2 linked regions of the Homo sapiens genome follow. The protein of the gene in region 1 purifies or fractionates together with the protein of each later gene. This does not show direct contact. Each region holds a gene or a part of one and is shown on either strand. Other genes may lie near its edges.

Region 1 (3,653 bases):
TTAAAACATAATAAATATGAAAGCCTCAAAAATTTCATCAGTGCCTAGAGACTTAAATACATTGTTACTATTCCACTAAAATCTAAAAGAATCTTTGAGAATAGACATTTATAAGGTACATTTGGTGAAACATTTTACTCTTGGTAAATTAGAACAAGTCTAAGAATGACTCATACTTTCGATTTTTTTTTTTTTTTTTTTTTTTTTGAGACAGGTTCTGGCTCTGTCACCCAGGCTGGAGTTCAGTGGTGCGAACTTCGCTCACTGCATCCTCGACCTCCTGGGCTCAAGTGATGCTCCCACCTCAGCCTACCAAGTAGCTAGGACTACAGGTGTGTACTCCACCACGCCCAGCTAATTTTGTCTATTTTTTCAGAGACAGGGTCTCACTTTGCTGCCTAGGCCAGTCTCAAACTCCTGGCCTCAAGCAATCCTCCTTCCTTGGCCTCCCAAAGTGTTGGAATTATAGATGTGAGCCACTGCACCTAGCCTTAGATTCATTTTAATAAGCTTTTTAAAACAGCTCACTCTTGTTCCTATCATTTCTGTGGTAAGCTTCAGAGCAGTGTTGATATCTAAAGTCATACTCAAAGTTACTCAACTTGACAGGCCCTAATGTCAGACAGTACTAAAACCACTTGAGTCTTCATTTGAATATCACCACCATAAGCTTACACTGCGACGTTCCTTCCTGAGCTTAGTATGCATTTTCCATGAGCAATGAAAACATCTGACAACATGGGTCCCAGAAAATGTATACATGTGGGCTACATCATCTCTCCTCACAGTTTGATTAACAATTTTTATTAAATAAACTCACTATGTAATGTTTTGTGCCATACAGCTTGGGAAAGTTCCTAGACATCAGGAAATCAGCATGTTCTCAAGCAAATACACTTGATAGACATTCATCTCAGCAGGATAAATATCTACAGGAGAAAATCATGAAGCTACCAGAATGTGGCCAAAGGGAAAAATATCCTATGATCATTCCAGATTTTTTGTGTTGGTTCTCCTCTCCTATTCCCATCCCATCCCTGGAGAAAACAATAAGGCAAAGTTTCCCGTTTTTTTTTTTTTTTTTTTTTGAGACAGGATCTCCCTCCGCCACCTAGACTGGAGTGTAGTAAGCCTATCTCCGCTCACTGCAGCCTCAAGCAGTCCTCCAACCTAAGCCTCCCAAGTAGCTGGGACTACAGAGACATACCACTACGCTAATTTTTTAGTTTTTGTTTGTTTGTTTGTTTTTGTAGAGACAGGGTCTCACTATGTTGCCCAGGCTGGTCTTGAACCCCTGGGCTCAAATGATCCTCCTTCCTCGGCCTCCCAAAATTTTGGGATTACAGACATGAGCGACCACATCCAGTGCAAATTTTTTTATACCAAGGCAAAGATGATCATGCAAAAGAAACTAATGAATGAACAAGCCGTTGGAACAAAAACAATTTGTTAATGCTTCCCTGGCCTTACAAATACTGGAGTGGTAATGGGTGGAATCCATTCTATTAAAATAGAATGGATTTTAAATGTGTGGGGGTTTAGATATTCTTCTACCACCTCTGATTTTTCTGGAAACCATTACAGTTCCACAATCCTTTTCCCTCCAGGTGATCTGGGTCACTTTCATCACTTTCATCACTATCAGTTCATCCACTATTTGCACCATTTGGCCAGCTAAGAGTTGGCTAAAAGTGCAGCCAGGTGTGTCGTAATGATGCAAGACTATAGCAGTATAATCCCCATGATGCATTCACAGGATGCATTACAGAGAAGGGGAAGGAAAGAGTGCAATTCCAAGATGAACTTTGACTTGCAACCCACACTCCCTTCAACAAACAGCTTTAAGTAAATCTTGGAAATATTGTTCAAAATACATGTGACAAAACGTGACCATCTTTCCTCTGTTACGTGGCGGGTATGATCCTTTCTGTATTCCTAACATCTCTCAATTTGGGTTGAATGTGCAGTCCCTAAGTCATAAGCAAGTGCCAGTCACCACTTATGGTTGCTCCGAAGAGAAAATTAGACCTTGCTTTAGTTTTTTCTTCCAAAAGAACAACTTTTCATTTCTTAACCATTGTCAGCAATTTCCATAGGCTGGATTGACTTACCTTCATGATGTTTGGAAGTTAAGACAATGTATTTGGCACCAGAGGCCTGAAAAATATCTGCCCACTGGTTGGCATTAAAAAATTTTGCTGTAAATAGTGGTCCAAAATCTTCATATTTGAAACTAGGAGGGTAATTATCTTTCATAAATTCCACATACTTCGGTATCTTTTCCTTTTGCCAATACCACCTAAGGGGAGGAAAGGAAAGAGTGCATAAACAGCACATACACACATATTTAAAAGAACTGCTCCAGCTCCCCTTACCATTTACCCCTCACACAGATAGGACCCAGATTCTCTTTCTCACTTCCCCATTAGTTTGACTTGGCTTTAAAGATAGCTTATGCAAACTAAACCCCCTCTCATTTTCCACCTATCCCCCTGTGATATCCACTCAGCTCATAAACTAGAGCATTCTAGGCAACTCAGCTACCCATTCTCTCTTTTTTTTAAGACAGGGTCTCACTCTGTCACTCAGGTTGGAATGCAGTAATGGAATCATGGTTCACTGCAACCTTGACCTCCTGTGCTCAAGCAATCCTCTCGCCTTAGCCTCCTGAGTAGCTAGGACCACAGGCACGTGCCACCACACCTGGCTATTTTTTTTTTCTTTGTAGAGATGTGGTTTCCATATGTTGCCCAGGCTGGTCTTAAACTCCTGGGCTCAAGCGATCTTCCTGCTTCAGTCTCCCGAAGTGTTAGGATTACAGGCATGAGTCACCGTGTCCAGCCCCATTCTCTTTTAATTCTTCACTTTTAAATCACAACATGTAGTATATGTCTTTACACATTGTCCCTTGTAACATAAGTGATTAGGGCTTCTAAAAGGAAGACTACATGCCTAAAACATAATATGCATCTATTATATTCAGTAGTAGAGAACACTTTGGAGGCACAGGACAGAAAGGGAGGCAAAAGTAAAATTAAAAAGATGCTGTTATTTTAATAAATGGACTCAACCTTCAACAATTACTTGCTATACGCATTCATTCTAAGCAATGGTATATTGACCCTAAACTGCGTAAGCAAGACTTCATGAGGAAAAGCACATCTACACATTTTAGATAAACACAGCAGTAACTATCCTCATGAAATAGATGCAACCCCCATTTTTGACCCACCTCCTGCTTTTTCTATCACCATTCCTTTCATATGAGTATTTCTACAGGATAAGCAAATCCATAATCAGCACTATATTTCCCAAGACGATCAGGAGACTCTGCTAAGAAGAAATAATTGAAGGGCATACTATGCGGCAGGCATGCTGTTTGCCTGCCCAAAAGTCGTATTTACGTAATTTCCCAGCTTCCACTACAGCTGCGACAGGGATGTGAGATCCATGCTGGCCAAGGGAACTTGAGGGAAAGCCAACTTTGGGGACTGTGGAAATGGTTTCCCTCCTAATGAAAAGAGACACTGGCCTTCCTGCCTTTGGGCAGGGTTGTGTGAAGTTATGGTGCCTGGCTGCCATCCTGTGACCATGAAGGGACAAGTCCCCAGGCTGAGGATGAAAGAAAGAGCCCGTGTCTTTGATTTCATCAA
Region 2 (3,653 bases), on another chromosome or scaffold:
GGAGTGAAGTGAGGGGCAGGGGTTTGGTACCTGCAGCAGGGCCAGGGCCCAGGTGAAACGGATGCGACAGCAGCGGAGAGAAGAGCGGGAGGCAAAGACGCCAGCCTGGTACAGCATCTGGTACCTGAGGTTAGGGTTGGGGGGAGGAGAGGAGGCTCCTCCAGGGACCATCCCGCTCCCCCCGGTGCCTACTGGGCAGGGCAGCTGCATCACCACGGCGCCCTCCCAGCCCACTGCCCTCGCTCCTCTTACCAGCGGTATTGCTGAGCGTGACTCAGGGAAGTGTTCCAGAAAAAGAGGAGTTCAAACTGCAACAAATACCAGACAGGGGAGATGGACGGGGCTGTGTGGGTCCCAGCCCCAATCGCCACCTCCACACCCCTCCTAGCACCCCTCACTTACAAGTCCCTGGTTAATGAAATACTCGGCAAAGTAAACTACGACCAAGGGAACAATGTACCACAGCAGACCCTGGAAAAGGCAGAAGATATAAGCGGGGGGCCTGGAGGTGAGCAAGCCCCACAGGGACATACCCCAGCCATCATCCGAACCTTGAACACTGTCCACCTTTCCCGAAGGGAGAGGCTGGAGCTGGAGCCTGCAGGGGAACAGAGAGAGAAGGGCAGATGAAGTTTTCACACTGAAGACTCGGCAAAGAGGCACCGGTATGACAGAATTAACCAGACCACGCAACAGTGGGAACTCACTTCCATGCCACTGGATTGGACACTTAAAAATGGTTAAAATGGCTGGGCGCAGTGGCTCATGCTTGTAATCCCAGCACCTTGGGAGACTGAGGTGGGCGGATCACCTGAGGTCAGGAGTTCAAGACCACCCTGGCCAACATGGAGAAACCCCATCTCTACTAAAAATACAAAAATTAGCCATGTGTGGTGGCAGGTGTCTGTAGTCCCAGCTACTCGGGTGGCTGAGGCAGGAGAATCACTTGAACCCAGGAGGCAGAGGTTGTAGTGAGCTGAGATTGCGCCATTGCACTCCAGCCTGGGCAACAAGAGCGAAACTCCACCTCAAAAAAATAAAGTAAGATAAAAAATAATAAAATGGTAAACTTCAAGTAATATACATACTTTATCATGATGAAAATAAAAGCTAACCAGGTGAGACCTCTTCACGTCTCTTTGATTTTTAATTTTTTTTATTTTTTGAGACAGAGTCTCACTCAGTTGCCCAGGCTGCAGTGCAGTGGTGCAATCTCAGCTCACTGCAGCCTCTGCCTCCTGGGTTCAAGTGATTCTCGTGCCTCAGCTTCCCAAGTAGCTGGGACTACAGGCATGCACCACCACACCTGGCTAATTTTTTTATTTTTAGTAGAGACGGGGTTTTACCATGTTGGCCAGACTGGTCTCAAACTCTTGATCTCAAATGATCCATCTGCCTCAGCCTCCCAAAGTGCTGGGATTACAGGTATGAACCACCACGCCCGGCCAATGTCTCTTGTACAGCTCCACAGATGGCCATTGGCCCACCCTGCCCAGTCTCACTGGCCATTCTCTGGTTCTAGAACATCCCAGCTTATCCCCACCGCAGGGCCTCAGCACTTGTGATTGGAATGCCTGGCACATGGTAAGTACTCAATTAATATCCCTTCTTCTCTCCCTCCCTTCCTTCCTTTCTTTTCTTTTTTTTTTTTTTTTTTTTTTTTTTGCGACAAGGTCTTGCTCTGTTGCCCAGGCTGGACTCAGACTTCTGAGCTCAAGTGGTCCTCCTGCCTCAGCCTCCCAAAGTGCTGGGATATTACAGGCGTGAGCCACTGTGCTCGTCCTCAACAAGTATTTCTCAAATAGACAAAGGCTTTTCCCATAACCAGTACACTCACTCTCTTTCCCCTCTTAACTTTGCCTATTGCAGAGAGGAAAAGGCCAAACCCAGAGAGAAAGAAAGTGACCTCTCTGAGGGTCTGTGTCTCCTACCTGGCTTCGACTCCGGGGCCTCGGTTCTTATGAGGGGCTGCCGGGCTGCGCTCTCTGCTTCTTCTTCCCCTCCAGGGTCCTGGGCCTCAGGAGATGTGAGCAACAAGAAATAGCTAGGAGTAGGATGAAGGCAGGGTCAGAAAACCCTACTGGCTGGGAAGGTCCCCAGGGACCATCTAGGCCACTTTTCCCAGGGAACACCTCTACCTTTGAACACTTTCAAAGATGGGTAGCTCACTGCCTCTAAGGCTCCTACGCTGTGCGGGAGAGCTCCAATTGTGGACAAAGGCTTCTTTCTTTGGACCTGAATTTATCTCCTTATTCCTATTCATGGGCCTTCATTTTGTTTTGATTTTTTTCAGAGACAGGGTCTTTCTCCAGCATCCAGGCTGGAATGCAGTGGTGCAATCATAGCTCACTGCAGCCGCGACCTCCCAGGCTCAAGCAATCCTCCCGCCTCAGCCTCCCAAGTAGCGGGGACTACAGGCACGTGCCACCAAGCCCGCCTCATATTTTCCATTTTTTGTATAAATGGAGTCTCGCTATGTTGCCCAGGCTGGTCTCAAATTTCTAGCCTCTAGTGGTCCTCCAGCCTCAGCCTCCTAAAGCACTGGGATTACAGCTGTGAGCCACTGTGCTCAGCAGGCCCTTGTTCGGACTGCTGGCTCATACCTAGCGAGTCAGTTCTGTTTTCTGGCCATTATTATTCTAATGGTCGCTCTAGCTCCCATTAATTATACGTTCACTCTGTGCTAGGCCAGAACTTCCTCGATTTTAGTCACTTAGGTTCTGGCTTCATGTTATTTGCCATATCCATATTCCTCCTGTATATATATATTTTTACTTAATATTTTTCTTTAAATGGACTCACTTTTTCTACTTAGACTTGTCCTAAGCACTAATCTTGTGAAGGGCCAGGTGTGTCTGGCTAGTTCAAAGTGTGTGTTTTTTTTTTTTTTAGACGGAGTCTCGCTCTGTTGCCCAGCCTGGAGTGCAGTGGCACAATCACGGCTCACTGCAACCTCTGCCTCCTGGGTTCAAGCGATTCTTCTCCTCAGCCTCCCAAGTAGCTGGGACTACAGGCAAGCGCCACCAAGCCTGGCTAATTTTTGTATTTTTAGTAGAGACGGGGTTTCACCATATTGGCCAGGCTGGTCTCAAACTCCTGACCTCGTGGTGCGCCCGCCTCGGCCTCCCAAAGTGCTGGGATTACAGATGTGAGCCACCATGCCCGGCCAAAGTGTTTTGTAATATGCATGAAAATACACAGAACTAATCAGGCCGGGCGCGGTGGCTCACGCCTGTATTCCTAGCATTATGGGAGGCCAAGGCAGGTGGATCACTTGAGGTCAGGAGTTTGAGACCAGCCTGGCCAATACAGTGAAACCCCGTCTCTACTAAAAATATAAAAAATTAGCCAGGCATGGTGGCATGGGCCTGTAGTCCCAGCTACTCGGGAGGCTGAGGCAGGAGAATCACTAGAGCCCGGGAGGCCGAGGCTGCAGTGAGCTGAGATCACACCAGTCACTGCACTCCAGCCTGAGTGACACCATGAGACTCCGTCTCAAAAAAAAAAAAAAAAAAAAAAAAAAAAGGGAGTCGCCATGGTTCAGGCCTGTTGCCCTGGCACTCAGGCAGGCAAGGCTACACATTCGAGGCCAACCTGGTCAACACTGATTAAAAAAAAAAAAAAAAAAAAAAGGAACTAATCAAATAAAGTCC

The links. Proteins that work in one complex are often made in the same cells at the same time.
Region 2: the proteins of FUCA2 (region 1) and CLN3 purify together in Homo sapiens (affinity purification with mass spectrometry; one large-scale study listed by BioGRID and IntAct). This does not show direct contact.

The regions. Positions count from the first base shown.
Region 1 is NC_000006.12:143,505,126-143,508,778, forward strand, and holds part of FUCA2 (plasma alpha-L-fucosidase precursor), read right to left. Parts: intron 2,300-3,653; coding exon 2,112-2,299; exon of another isoform or gene 845-2,111; intron 333-844; exon of another isoform or gene 291-332; intron 1-290. UniProt on the Homo sapiens protein: Alpha-L-fucosidase is responsible for hydrolyzing the alpha-1,6-linked fucose joined to the reducing-end N-acetylglucosamine of the carbohydrate moieties of glycoproteins.
Region 2 is NC_000016.10:28,482,075-28,485,727, forward strand, and holds part of CLN3 (battenin), read right to left. Parts: intron 2,045-3,653; coding exon 1,932-2,044; intron 599-1,931; coding exon 552-598; intron 472-551; coding exon 403-471; intron 309-402; coding exon 253-308; intron 125-252; coding exon 31-124; intron 1-30.